Linked DNA regions of Homo sapiens: regions 1, 2 and 4 are each linked to region 3. Evidence: fine-mapped expression QTL. A gene starts in region 3. Each other region holds a variant in brackets. All regions are shown on one strand. Distances are between the middles of the regions.

Region 1 (2,683 bases), 27 kb after region 3:
TATGTTGTAGCATGTATCAATACTTTATTCCTTCCTATTGCCAAATAATATTCCATTGTGGATATACCACGTTTTAGTTATCCTTTCATTGGTTGATGGGCATTTAGGTTGTTTCTACTTTATGGCTATTAGGAATAATGAATAATGGCTGTTATAAACATTTGTATAAAATAGACTCCATCCTGGAGGAATGGCATGTGAATACAGGGTGAGAGGAATTGGTGACCGTCTGTGCAAACAGTCCACCACATTCTGCCCTTTGCTCTCAACAATTTACATCCCCCTCATATGCAAAATATATCCACCCCCTTCCACCACCACTAGATGTCTCATCCAATAATTACATCAGCTTGAAATCCAGAATATTATCATCTAGGTAGTCTATATGTAGGTAAGGCCTCTAACCTGCCATACTGGTCCATATACCCTAACTTTGTTCATGCTGCTTCCTTTACTTCCCACCTCTCATTCCCACTCTGCCACAACCTACCCTACACATCTCTGGCGATCAAAAGAAAATATCTCTTCTTCCTTGAAGCTTTTGCTTACCTATACTATACCTCCAGTAGAATTTACCACTCCTATTTGCTTCAACTGCACCCTATACAGACTTCTTTCAGAGCCCTTCTTCTTGCTCCAGATTCAATAGTGTCTACCTTATGTACAGTCCATTTTAGCTTTTTTATGTCTGAATTCAATCAACCTTGCTCTTAGTGTTTAGGCTTTCACTGTTTGTTTTGGTCAAGACTCTTAAGGCTACAAGTGATAGAACCTTAGCCTTAGATATTAACCAGCAACGGAGGTTCACCAGACATCTGAGTAAAGAAAGCCTCCAAGATAAAAGATGATGATCCAAACAGAAAAAAGGGATTCTGAGGGAACAAACATTGCAGGGAGAAGAAAACCCTCCTACCAGAAAGTGGGGGAATCCTCTAATACTCTTTTTTTTTTTTTTTTTTTTTTTGACGGAGTCTTGCTCTGTCATCCAGGCTGGAGTGCAGTGGCGCAATCTCGGGTCACTGCAACCTCCGCCTCCCAGGTTCAAGTGATTCTCCTGTCTCAGCCTCCCGAGTAGCTGGGATTACAGGCATACGCCACCAAGCCCAGCTAATTTTTGTATTTTTAGTAGAAATGGGATTTCACTGTATTGGCCAGGCTGGTCTCAAACTCCTGACCTCAGGTGATTCACCC[T/G]CCTCGGCCTCCTAAAGTGCAGGGATTACAAGCATGAGTCACTGCGCCTGGCCTGCTAATATTCTTAAGTTATACTGAAGATAAATCTTATTGAAATAAGAGCAGTGGTACTGTATAAAATGAACTCTGGAAACAAAAGCACTTAGCAAAGAACAATGTGAAACTGATCTCACCCTAAGGATTAGATCCAAAAGGTCCATTTGGCAGCCAGATCTTGCCAGAGCAGAATTTAAGGCATTTGCCATAGGTGGAAGGTTGATGTATGTTTTGGTTATCTATTGTTACGTCACAAACCACCCCCAATCTTAGAGGTTCCATAATTTGGACAGGGCTTGAGCAGAAAGATTGATTCATCTCTGCTCCTTGTTGGCACCTACTGAGGCTGGAACGTAGATAATGATAAGCAATTTGCTGGGTTGGATTTGTACACTTTCTACCGTCCAATATGATCCATCAACTTTCTTCTTGGCTTTGTATTATGTCCAAAAGGGTACTCTTGGATTGACTTACACTTGCAATACAGAGAAAGAAGCCATTTGGTTTGGCCAGTGCTTTAGAAGGGAGAAAGGGGTGGGAGCATGATGTCCAACTGCTGGGAGGGGTCAGGAGGCACCTACATGCTAGTATTTCTGTGTGCATTCCAAACCAGTGTTGGGTTTCTCCACTTCTACTGGCTTTGTTTGATCTTATTGTCCTTGAAGATTTGATTAACTTCAACCCTATTCTGTCAGCTGTTTCAGTTCCAATGGAACCTTGTAATTCTGGCTCATTATAACAAGAAATTATCTCAAATCCAAAAAGAAAAAAAAATCACGTCTGGTATTTCAGCTGACATGATTGAAACAGCGTAGGGTTGGTTGTCTCTGTCCCTCTGCATGGTCTCTCAGTGCTGCTGTCACAGCATGAGAGTTTCAGAGTAGGTGGGTTTTTTCCATGTTACAATGCAAGAATGGAATCTGCCAGGCCTTCCTGCACATGTACCCCTGAACATAAAATAAAAGCCTTAAAAAAGAAATGAAACAAAAAACTTTCGATTTAACTTCTAATTTTGAAACAATTTCAGACTTAGAAAAACATTGCAAAGATAATACAAATGGTTCTGTATACCTTTCATCCCGATTTCCCCAAACCTTACATAGCCACAATACAATGATCCATCAGGCTTTTTCACCCCCTTGGCTCAGAAGTCACACAATGTCACATCCATCACACTCTTGGTCAAAGCAACATGAAGTCTATCTAGCCTAGTTTCAAGGGGAGGAAAATAGACTTCATTCCTTGTTGGGAGAGTGGTAAGTCACATTGCAAAAAGGCATATGGGATGGGAGATCTTTGGAAACATTACCACAAGTTTCAGTGGTGACAGGTGAATTCCTGTTGACTGAAACATTCTAAATAACAAAACTATTTCTAGATTCTAATAAATATGCCATAGTATCATAACTGTTTAAAGTGAAAAATTAAACACTATAACTAGGCTTATATCAGAATA
Region 2 (2,683 bases), 21 kb before region 3:
GCTTCTGGGGCAACTTGGTGGGGCAGAGGGGTGGCCCCACCTGTGGGAGGGACTGAAAAGATCCTGCCTCAGGACCAGGACTTTGGTGATCCCAGTTCTCAAGGACCCCCTGCTCAGGCTGCTATTATCCAAAAGGGCCGAGGGTCAGGATTTCAGCCCCAGCCCGGGCCCAAGCCTGCACTGTTGCCTCTACCAGGTCCAGCCCTGTCCTGCGCCCCACAGAGCGGAAGGACACAGGCCAGGATATGGGCACAACAGCCCCCAGTCCGGAAGTGAGTGGTCAGGTGGCCAATGGGACCGCAGACTCTGTTGTTGTGTAATAGTTTTTATTTATTAAGCTTCTTTTATTTAATAAAACTTTTATTAAAGCTTCTATTCTTCTATTACGCAAACAGAGAGCAGCTCTTTTCCTAAGGGAGTGGCAGGGCATGGGGACAGATGTCTTAAATATACTACCCAATGTCACCAATTTCAACTTGACAATGAAAAGACAGAGAGCGGAAGGAAGCCCCTTCCTCTTTATGCACTGGAGCGCTTCCTCCATCTCCTCACCCCTCCCCCAGCCCCCTCCCTCCTCCTCTCTCTCTCTCCTTGGCATAAGAAAGCAGGTCTCTGGCATTGGCAAAGAGAAAAGTTAAAGGCAGAGAAGCAGTGAGAGGAAGGGAGGAGAAATCAGGCAGCCTGTAGCTAAAGGGTCCCCATCCCACCTTGCAGGCTAGCCAGGACACCTTGCATTCTGGTAAGGTGGGGGTGGGGTGCCGGGGATGAGGTAGGAGATGGTGACTCTCCCTTGCAGGACATCTGATCTTCTTGCATCAGGCCCAAGGACCTGGTGTCATCATTAGTGGGACCAGGCAGGGAGGAAGGTTCCCCAGCGGACCTAGCTGACCGTCCCCTGGAGGCCAGCCAAAGTGTGCGTGGCCACGGCTCAGAATTTGCATCAGTAACAGCACCAGCAGCCCCTGCAGCGGCAAGGGAGATCATTTATCCAGTGCTTGCTATGTGTCCGGCCCTGTGCTTAAGTATTTTTCATTCATTATCTTTTTTAATCCAA[C/A]CAAACCTCAGGAGAGTTTATTAATTCCATTTAACAAATGAGGCAACTGAGGCTCAGAGAATTTAAGAGGCCTCTAATTAGGGCAGTCCTTTTTGCACTCTGCAACCCATCTGACCTCTTCCTTCTCAAGCCCTGGTCTGCAGCCCATCCTTCCAGAGCTGGAGAGGAGGCAGGACAGGCTCAGGAAGGTTCTACTTTTTCCCTACTCTCACAGCCCCCTACTTCCACCTGTCCCATAGCTGTTTAATTCCATTGTCTCAAAAATGAGGGCTGCTTGGGTTTTCATGGGGAGGGAGCAGACAGCAGGGCCAGTGCACCCTGGCACGTGGGAAGGGGCCTGAGCCCAGCTTGGCATACTGACCTGGCACGGCCTGGCTAGCATCGTCGTCCCACACGTCAGAGTAGCCATGGTCGCTTTTGTTAGCTGGGATTACTGCATTCAGGAGGGAGGAGGAGAGAAAGGAGGGGTCCCAGGCTGAGGTGGGAAAGGGAGGGGGCGCCACAAACTCCTAGGGGTGAGAGTGAGCAGAGATTTGTGGCTCAGGCTGGCAAGAAAGACTTGCCAGGGCTCCGTTAGTGGCCTCAGCCCAACTCCAAGCCCCTGGGACTCAGTTACTCCCTGCCCCGAGTGGCTTTCTCTTCCTCCCCACTCCTGCTTGCTCTGCCTCCATCATGGCTGGGGCAACTGGGACCAGCGGGAGCCCTGCCTGACTCCCACATTTAGAAAAAGAGGATGTGTACTCCACCCTCAGCCCCAGAAAGATTTACACCCATCTGTTGAATCCATGAAAATATGACTGAACAGGAGCCCAGCTTCTTCCCAGGCAGCCACTGATCTCTTCCCTCCCTCACCTCCTAGGAGCACAGGCTTTGCAGTCAAAGAAACTTGGCTTCAAATCCCGACTCCTCTGCTTTTTAACTGTGGGACCCTAAGCAAGTTAGTTCACCTCTCTGGGTCTCAGGTTCCTTATCTCCAAACTGGCAGAATCCTGTGACAAAGGAGCTATAAAAGATAAAGGCCTATATAAAAGAATATATAGTCCGGGCACGGTAGCTCCCGCCTGTAATCCCAGCAGTTTGGGAGGCTGAGGCGGGTGGATAACCTGAGGTTGGGAGTTCGAGACCAGCCTGACCAACGTGGAGAAACCCCGTCTGTACTAAAAATACAAAATTAGCTGGGCGTGGTGGCACATGCCTGTAATTAGCTGGGCGTGGTGGCACATGCCTGTAATCCCAGCTACTCGAGAGGCTGAGGCAGGAGAATTGCTTGAACCCAGGAGGCGGTGGTTGCGGTGAGCCGAGATTGCACCACTGCACTTCAGCCTGGGCAACAAGAGCAAAACTTTGTCTCAAAAAAAGAAAGAATACATAATAACACTAATGTTTGTCAAGTGCCCATTATGTGCCAGGACGTTTCGTGTATTATCTCACTAAGTCCCCCAAAACACTCGATGAGGTTGGTGTTATTATTATTGCTCCCATTTTATAGGCAAGCAAACTGAGGCTTAGGTGAAGAAATTTGCCAAAGCTGCCAAGCCTTAGAGCTGCGATACGTGCCCAGGACCCAGATAACATAGCTTATGCTCTCAGCTCCCCTGACGTGCTGGTGGCTGGTGCGTCTGGTTGCCT
Region 3 (2,683 bases):
ACCAACCTTCTGACCATGCCTCTGTGCTCCTTGGGACCTGGGCTCACATTTTCAATCTCTTCTCTCCTATTAGTACAGCTCTGTCTAGAGCCATGGTTCTTCTCTACCTTTCACAGCTGTCTTCTTTCCCACTTATATGAGTTTCTTTAAGTGTGAAAATTAAAAAGTGCCACTTAAATACAATGATTAAGTCATAATAAACAGTACAAGTTGTACTTATGTGAGACATACCACCCATACACGTTTGATCTTCGAGAACCACATCTCAATCTGCCCATGGCCCATTGCCTGACACTAAAAGATGCTCACAAGAAGTTGACTATAAACTAACTTCTTGGTCTAAGATCCTAAACTCTTGAGAGGGAAGGTTTCAATACATATGAAACCTTCTTGGCAGTGCAGGGATGAGGAGAGTAAAACTGAAATGAAAGTCAGCAAATAGTGAAGGTGTGAAATAGGCAGTGACTCTCACACTGAGACCTCCAGGGGATGTTAAATTTTCATTTCGAAGCTGATAGTCTTATCTGGGAAGCCTAGAGAGTAACAAAAGTTGTAGGCATATACTTATATTAGAGTGGTGCAAAAGTAATTGCTGTTTTTGCCATTTAAAAAAAAAATGCAAAAACCACAATTACTTTTGCACCAACCTAATAGCAAGCAAGGGGAGGAATATGGAGAGAAAATCAATTTCTAAAATGAAAAATAAAAAATTTTTTGCAAGTAGGACTTGCAAGCTCATTCTAGGCCTTGCTCTGGGAGCTTTTCGGTAACTTCTCTTCCTGTTGGAACAGAAGAAGGAAACCTTCAGGACAGAAGATTCTGTCCCCCTTCCCCCTCCTGATGTGAATGAAGTCTCATTACACTCTAAAGTACTGGCGGGACTACTTGTTGCAAGGTTTATGGGGAAAAGTAGCCAGAGAGCAATCCAGTTATCAGCCTCAGCCCCATTCCGCTCAGGTACAGCTCGGGAAGTAAGCCCCCAACCCTAGTTGGGTCTGGACCAACAAGACACGAGGAGGCAGCAGCCCACAGCCGACCCCTCATGCCACGCACTGAGCAGGGTTCCGCATGGACGCTGGTCTTGCCTCCCAGGCGCCTGAACTAGCGGAGTTGGGGTATCGGGTGGAGTCTCGGAGAACCAATCCAATCTGAGGGGGACGCCTGTGGGAGTCCTAAGTATCCAGCGCAGCTGGGAGGCCCACGTTGGGAAGTCGGAGACCGACCCCGCCTCCCGACTGCGCCGACTGCAAGAGAGCGCTTCCGGCGGCGCTTGGAGGCCGAGCAGTTGGGGGCGGGGCTCGTGCTGTGACGCAAGCCTCGCCTCGCCCCGCGCCGCGCGCGTTGCCAGGGTGATCAGGTGACTCCCGGTTCGCGGCGCTGGGAGCGGCCGTGACGTCAGGCGCCCGGCTGCTCCTCACTTGCTCTGAGACAGGTGCGGCAAGTCTACTGCGGGCTGGTCCGGGCTCCTCAGGTTCAGACCCGACCGTTATCCAGTCGGTTCGTGGAGAGGAGAGGTGAGGTGCAGCGGACCTGGCCCGACCCAGCTGGGACCAGGGCGGGGATCAGGCACGGACAGGGCGCGTCCCCGGGCTCCCTGGGGAGCGCCCTGAGAACTGGGGGGCACCCGGGCTGGCCTGGCTCAGGCAGGGGTTCGCGCAGCCCCTGGGGAGGGGCAGGGAGGCAGGGAAGCTGCTGCCGCCAGCTGGATCCCTCCCGGCGCCCCGCGGCTACTCTGGGGCTCCTGGTCGCCGCGCCGCGCGTCTCGGCGGTGGACTCACAGGGTCTCCGCGTCGCTGCGGTTCTCGTCTCACGAGGAGTCGGCGGGCTCGGAGCGGGGCTCGCCACACCCCGTCCCGGGGGACGTCCGCGGGAGGCTTCTGGATTTCTTCGCCTTGGGCTGCGATTTCTGAGGCGCTGCTCTGCCTATTCCGAGCTGGGCCAGCCGGGGGCAGGGGGCAGGTCGCGAGTCCCGCGGGTGGGAGCGGAGCGGAAGTAACTAGTGACTGGAAGTAACTAGGGAACGCAAAGCCGGCGCTCGGAGGCCGGGGTGTTCAGAGAAGGCGTTGCGGGGGAAAGGAATCCCGGCTGCTGTTGAGAGCCGTGGATTGGGATCTGAGCGGACCTGTTGGAGGAAGTGAAATCTGAGCGGGGTCCTGACGGGTGGGAACTAATCTCCCGGTAGCAGTGGAGGTTGCAGGGGGGAGAGAAGGAGGGGAGGACCCCTGGGGAAGGAGACCATGAGGAAAAACGATTTGGGGACTGACTGGACCGTCTGCTGGGCTGTTTTGGGGGAAAAAAAGTTTGGAGAATTAGGTTAGGGAGGATTAGGAAAGGACCCTTGAGTGCCCACCTGAGAGGCACTGTGTGCTGTGGGGAGCCATTGAAACGTTGGCTAGATTGGGGTAGGGGGAACACTGAGGAAGTTGGTGTGAGGGGAACACTGAGGAAGTTGGTGTGACATTCCGGCAAAAAGGTGACAACACTCTTCTCTGATGGGATTCCTCAAACCCTGCTTATGAAATACTTGTAACCGACAAGGGTAGGGGCTCAGGCAGCCAGGTGCCTTTTTCAGCCATTGTTGGCAAATTTTTAGAAATTAAACAAAAAATAATTGTACATATTTATAGATTTATACAATATGATACATGTAAACTTTGTGGAGTAACCATGTTAGCAGATTTTT
Region 4 (2,683 bases), 81 kb after region 3:
TCTCTACTGTTAAAATTGATAGCATCCCTGTACTGTGTTTTTAAAGGAATCAAAATACAACCCTGCACTTTGGAAGGCTGAGGTGGGAGGATCACTTGAGGGAAGGAGTTTGAGACCAGCTGGCCCTTGGGCTGTAATTTACAGAACCCTGGCCGAGAATATCACCCACCTATTAGTGAGACCCTATCTCTACAGCGAGACCCCCATCTCTACAAAAATAAAAAAATCAGCTGGGCATGGTGGTGCATGTCTGTAGCCCCAGCTACTCAGAAGGCTAAGGCAGGAGGATCACTTGAGTCCAGGAGGTTGAGACTGCATGCAGTGAGCCGTGATCATGCCACTGCACTCAAGCCTGGGTGACAGAGCAAGGCCCTGTCTCAAAACAAAACAAAAACACACACACAACCCTTCCACTTAGACAATGATTTCATCCCCACATACCTTCTCAGAAACTTCACTCTTACCATTAACCTTCCTTTCTTCTTAATCTTCTATTTCTTACTCTGCAAGATCCTTCTTGGTGAGGCAAACCATTAAAAAACCCTTTCTTTACCTCTCAGTCCCCTGAAAGTACTGCCTTTTTTCTGCAAAACTTCTTGAATCGGTTTTCTAAGGCAGCTGCCTCCCCTGTCTTCCCTCCTATCTGCTCCTCAGACCTCTCCAATCACACTTCTACCTCCTCTAATGAATTGGCTGTGATTCAAGTCCAATGATCTCTATGGGTGCTTCTCTGTCATCTTACTCAACCTCTCAACAGTGTTCAACACAGTTCTTGGAACACTTTCTCCTTCTAGCTTTCATGACACCACACTTCTATTCTCCTCCGACATAACTGGCTACTCTTTCTAAGTTCTCCTTTGCTGACTACCCCTCCTCTGCTCAGCTTCCGAATGCTGCATTTCCCAAGAAGCTGTCCTGGAACTCCTCCTCTTCTCCCCATCTGCACTCCCTCTTAGAAACTCTCATCTCGGCCAGGTGTGGTGGCTCACACCTGTAATCTCAGCACTTTGGGAAGCTGAGGCATGAGAATCGCTTGAACCCAGGAGGCAGATGTTGCAGTGAGCTGAGATCAAGCCACTGTACTCCAGCGTGGGTGACAGAGCAAGCCTCCATCTC[AAACAAC/A]AACAACAACAACAAAACCAATACTCTCATCTCATAGCTTTAAACATTATATGACTCCTAATTTGTATCTCCAACCCTATATCCCCTTAATTCCAGATTTAACATATCCAATTATTTATAAAACATATCCTCTTTGATGTCAAACCCAGACTTTAATATGTTTAAAACAAACACAACTGATTTATGGTCACCCCCACCCCTACCCCTCCCTGACTTCCCCATCTCAGTGAATGGCACTCATCCAACTGCTCAATGTAAAAAACAAAAAATGACAAAAAAAAAAAAAAAAAAAAAAAAGCTATGTTTTTCAAGAATGACCCTACATGGCACATCCCTGATTTTTTTCTTTTCCTCAATCCCCACACCTTCCATCCAATCCATCGGCAAATCTTATTAGCTTACTTCCAAATATATTCCCAAACTCTACTCTTCTTTCTATCTAGCACCACTGCCCTCGTCCTAGTCCAAGCCTCCATCATCTCTTGCCTGGAGGTGTGTCGTGGACACTCTCACACTGAATCAAGTTAGCCTCTGCTCAAAAAACCTCTAATGGGCCAGGCGTGGTGGCTCACACCTGTAATCCCTGCACTTCGGGAGGTTGAGGCAGGTGGATCACCTGAGGTCAGGAGTTTTGAGACCAGCCTGGACAACATGATAAAAACCCTGTCTCTACTAAAAATAAAAAAAATTAGCTGGGCATGGTGGCACACGCCTGTAATCCCAGCTACTCAGGAGGCTGAGGCAGGAGAATCGCTTGAGCCCGGGAGGTGGAGGTTGCAGTGAGCCGAGATCACGCCACTGCACTCCAGCCTGGGCAACAAGAGCAAAACTCCATCTCAAAAAAAAAAAAAAAAGCCTCTAATGGTTTCACCTCACACTTAGAAAACAAGCCAGACTCTTTAACCAAGGTGCTCAGGCTCCACATGGCCTCACTCCTGCCAACCCCTCCACTTCATTACTACTCTGTCCCCCTTTCACTTGCTTAAACAGCTCCAGCAGACTTATTTCTGTCTTAAGACAGGAATATCTCTCTGTGTAATATTTCTCTGTGACCTCCACCTGGAATGTTCTTCCTTGAGATACTTTTAGGTGGCTGTCTGCTTCTTTTCATTCACATCTTAGCTGAAATTTCACTTTTTCAGAAAGCCCTTCCCCAATTATTCAACTAAAGAAGGTCTCCAGTAACTCTCTAAAACATCACCCTTACTACATGATGGTTTCTTGTTTATTTCTTTATTGTCTGTATCTCAGTGTAAGCTCCAAAGAGTAGGGATCATGTCTGATTTGATTAATGCTATAACCCTAGCACCAAGAACTGGCACATAATTCATCTAACCAACAGGTATTGGGCACTCAGCACTCCAAAGAGCACCAACAGTAGAGAAGCGAACAAAGCACACACTTATCCCTGGAGATTATACTGTTGCAGGCCACACAGACATTTAGCTACCATTGTAATAAGGGATCTGAGGGAAACCATGGTCTTCGATGGAGGAAACATCTGATGGAATCAAGGAACTCACAGAGGGACTTGAGAACTCAGCTCTGAAGGATGAGCAGG

Alleles and levels. Alleles are on the strand shown, and positions count from the first base shown. SD is a standard deviation of normalised expression in the study named. Not every link is listed here.
With allele A in place of C in region 2, the expression in tibial artery of the gene that starts at base 1,417 in region 3 is lower (moderate effect, 0.41 SD a copy in GTEx).

What was found. PIP is the estimated chance that this variant, and not a neighbour inherited with it, causes the effect. A credible set is the group of variants that fine-mapping cannot tell apart.
Region 1: its variant is the best candidate, but not a certain one, in a credible set for the expression of CYSTM1 in whole blood (TOPMed, PIP 0.63).
Region 2: its variant is the best candidate, but not a certain one, in a credible set for the expression of CYSTM1 in tibial artery (GTEx, PIP 0.67).
Region 4: its variant is the best candidate, but not a certain one, in a credible set for the expression of CYSTM1 in whole blood (TOPMed, PIP 0.54).

Annotation. Positions count from the first base shown.
Region 1 is chr5:140,200,992-140,203,674 of GRCh38, forward strand. The region is part of intron 2 of CYSTM1 (cysteine rich transmembrane module containing 1); the gene reads left to right. Among named protein-coding and RNA genes, the nearest start is that of CYSTM1, 27 kb to the left of the region's middle. The variant T/G (reference allele first, on the strand shown) is at 1,192.
Region 2 is chr5:140,152,640-140,155,322 of GRCh38, forward strand. LOC124901086 (a long non-coding RNA gene) reads right to left here. Exons shown (of 4, transcript XR_007058964.1): 3 at 1,416-1,487. Among named protein-coding and RNA genes, the nearest start is that of CYSTM1, 21 kb to the right of the region's middle. RefSeq lists an enhancer at 1,372-2,031. The variant C/A (reference allele first, on the strand shown) is at 1,055.
Region 3 is chr5:140,173,772-140,176,454 of GRCh38, forward strand. It overlaps CYSTM1 (cysteine rich transmembrane module containing 1), which reads left to right and starts at 1,417. Exons shown (of 3, transcript NM_032412.4): 1 at 1,417-1,514. RefSeq lists an enhancer at 995-1,224 and a silencer at 1,515-1,804.
Region 4 is chr5:140,255,264-140,257,946 of GRCh38, forward strand. All of the region lies in intron 3 of PFDN1 (prefoldin subunit 1), which reads right to left. Among named protein-coding and RNA genes, the nearest start is that of PFDN1, 46 kb to the right of the region's middle. The variant AAACAAC/A (reference allele first, on the strand shown) is at 1,117.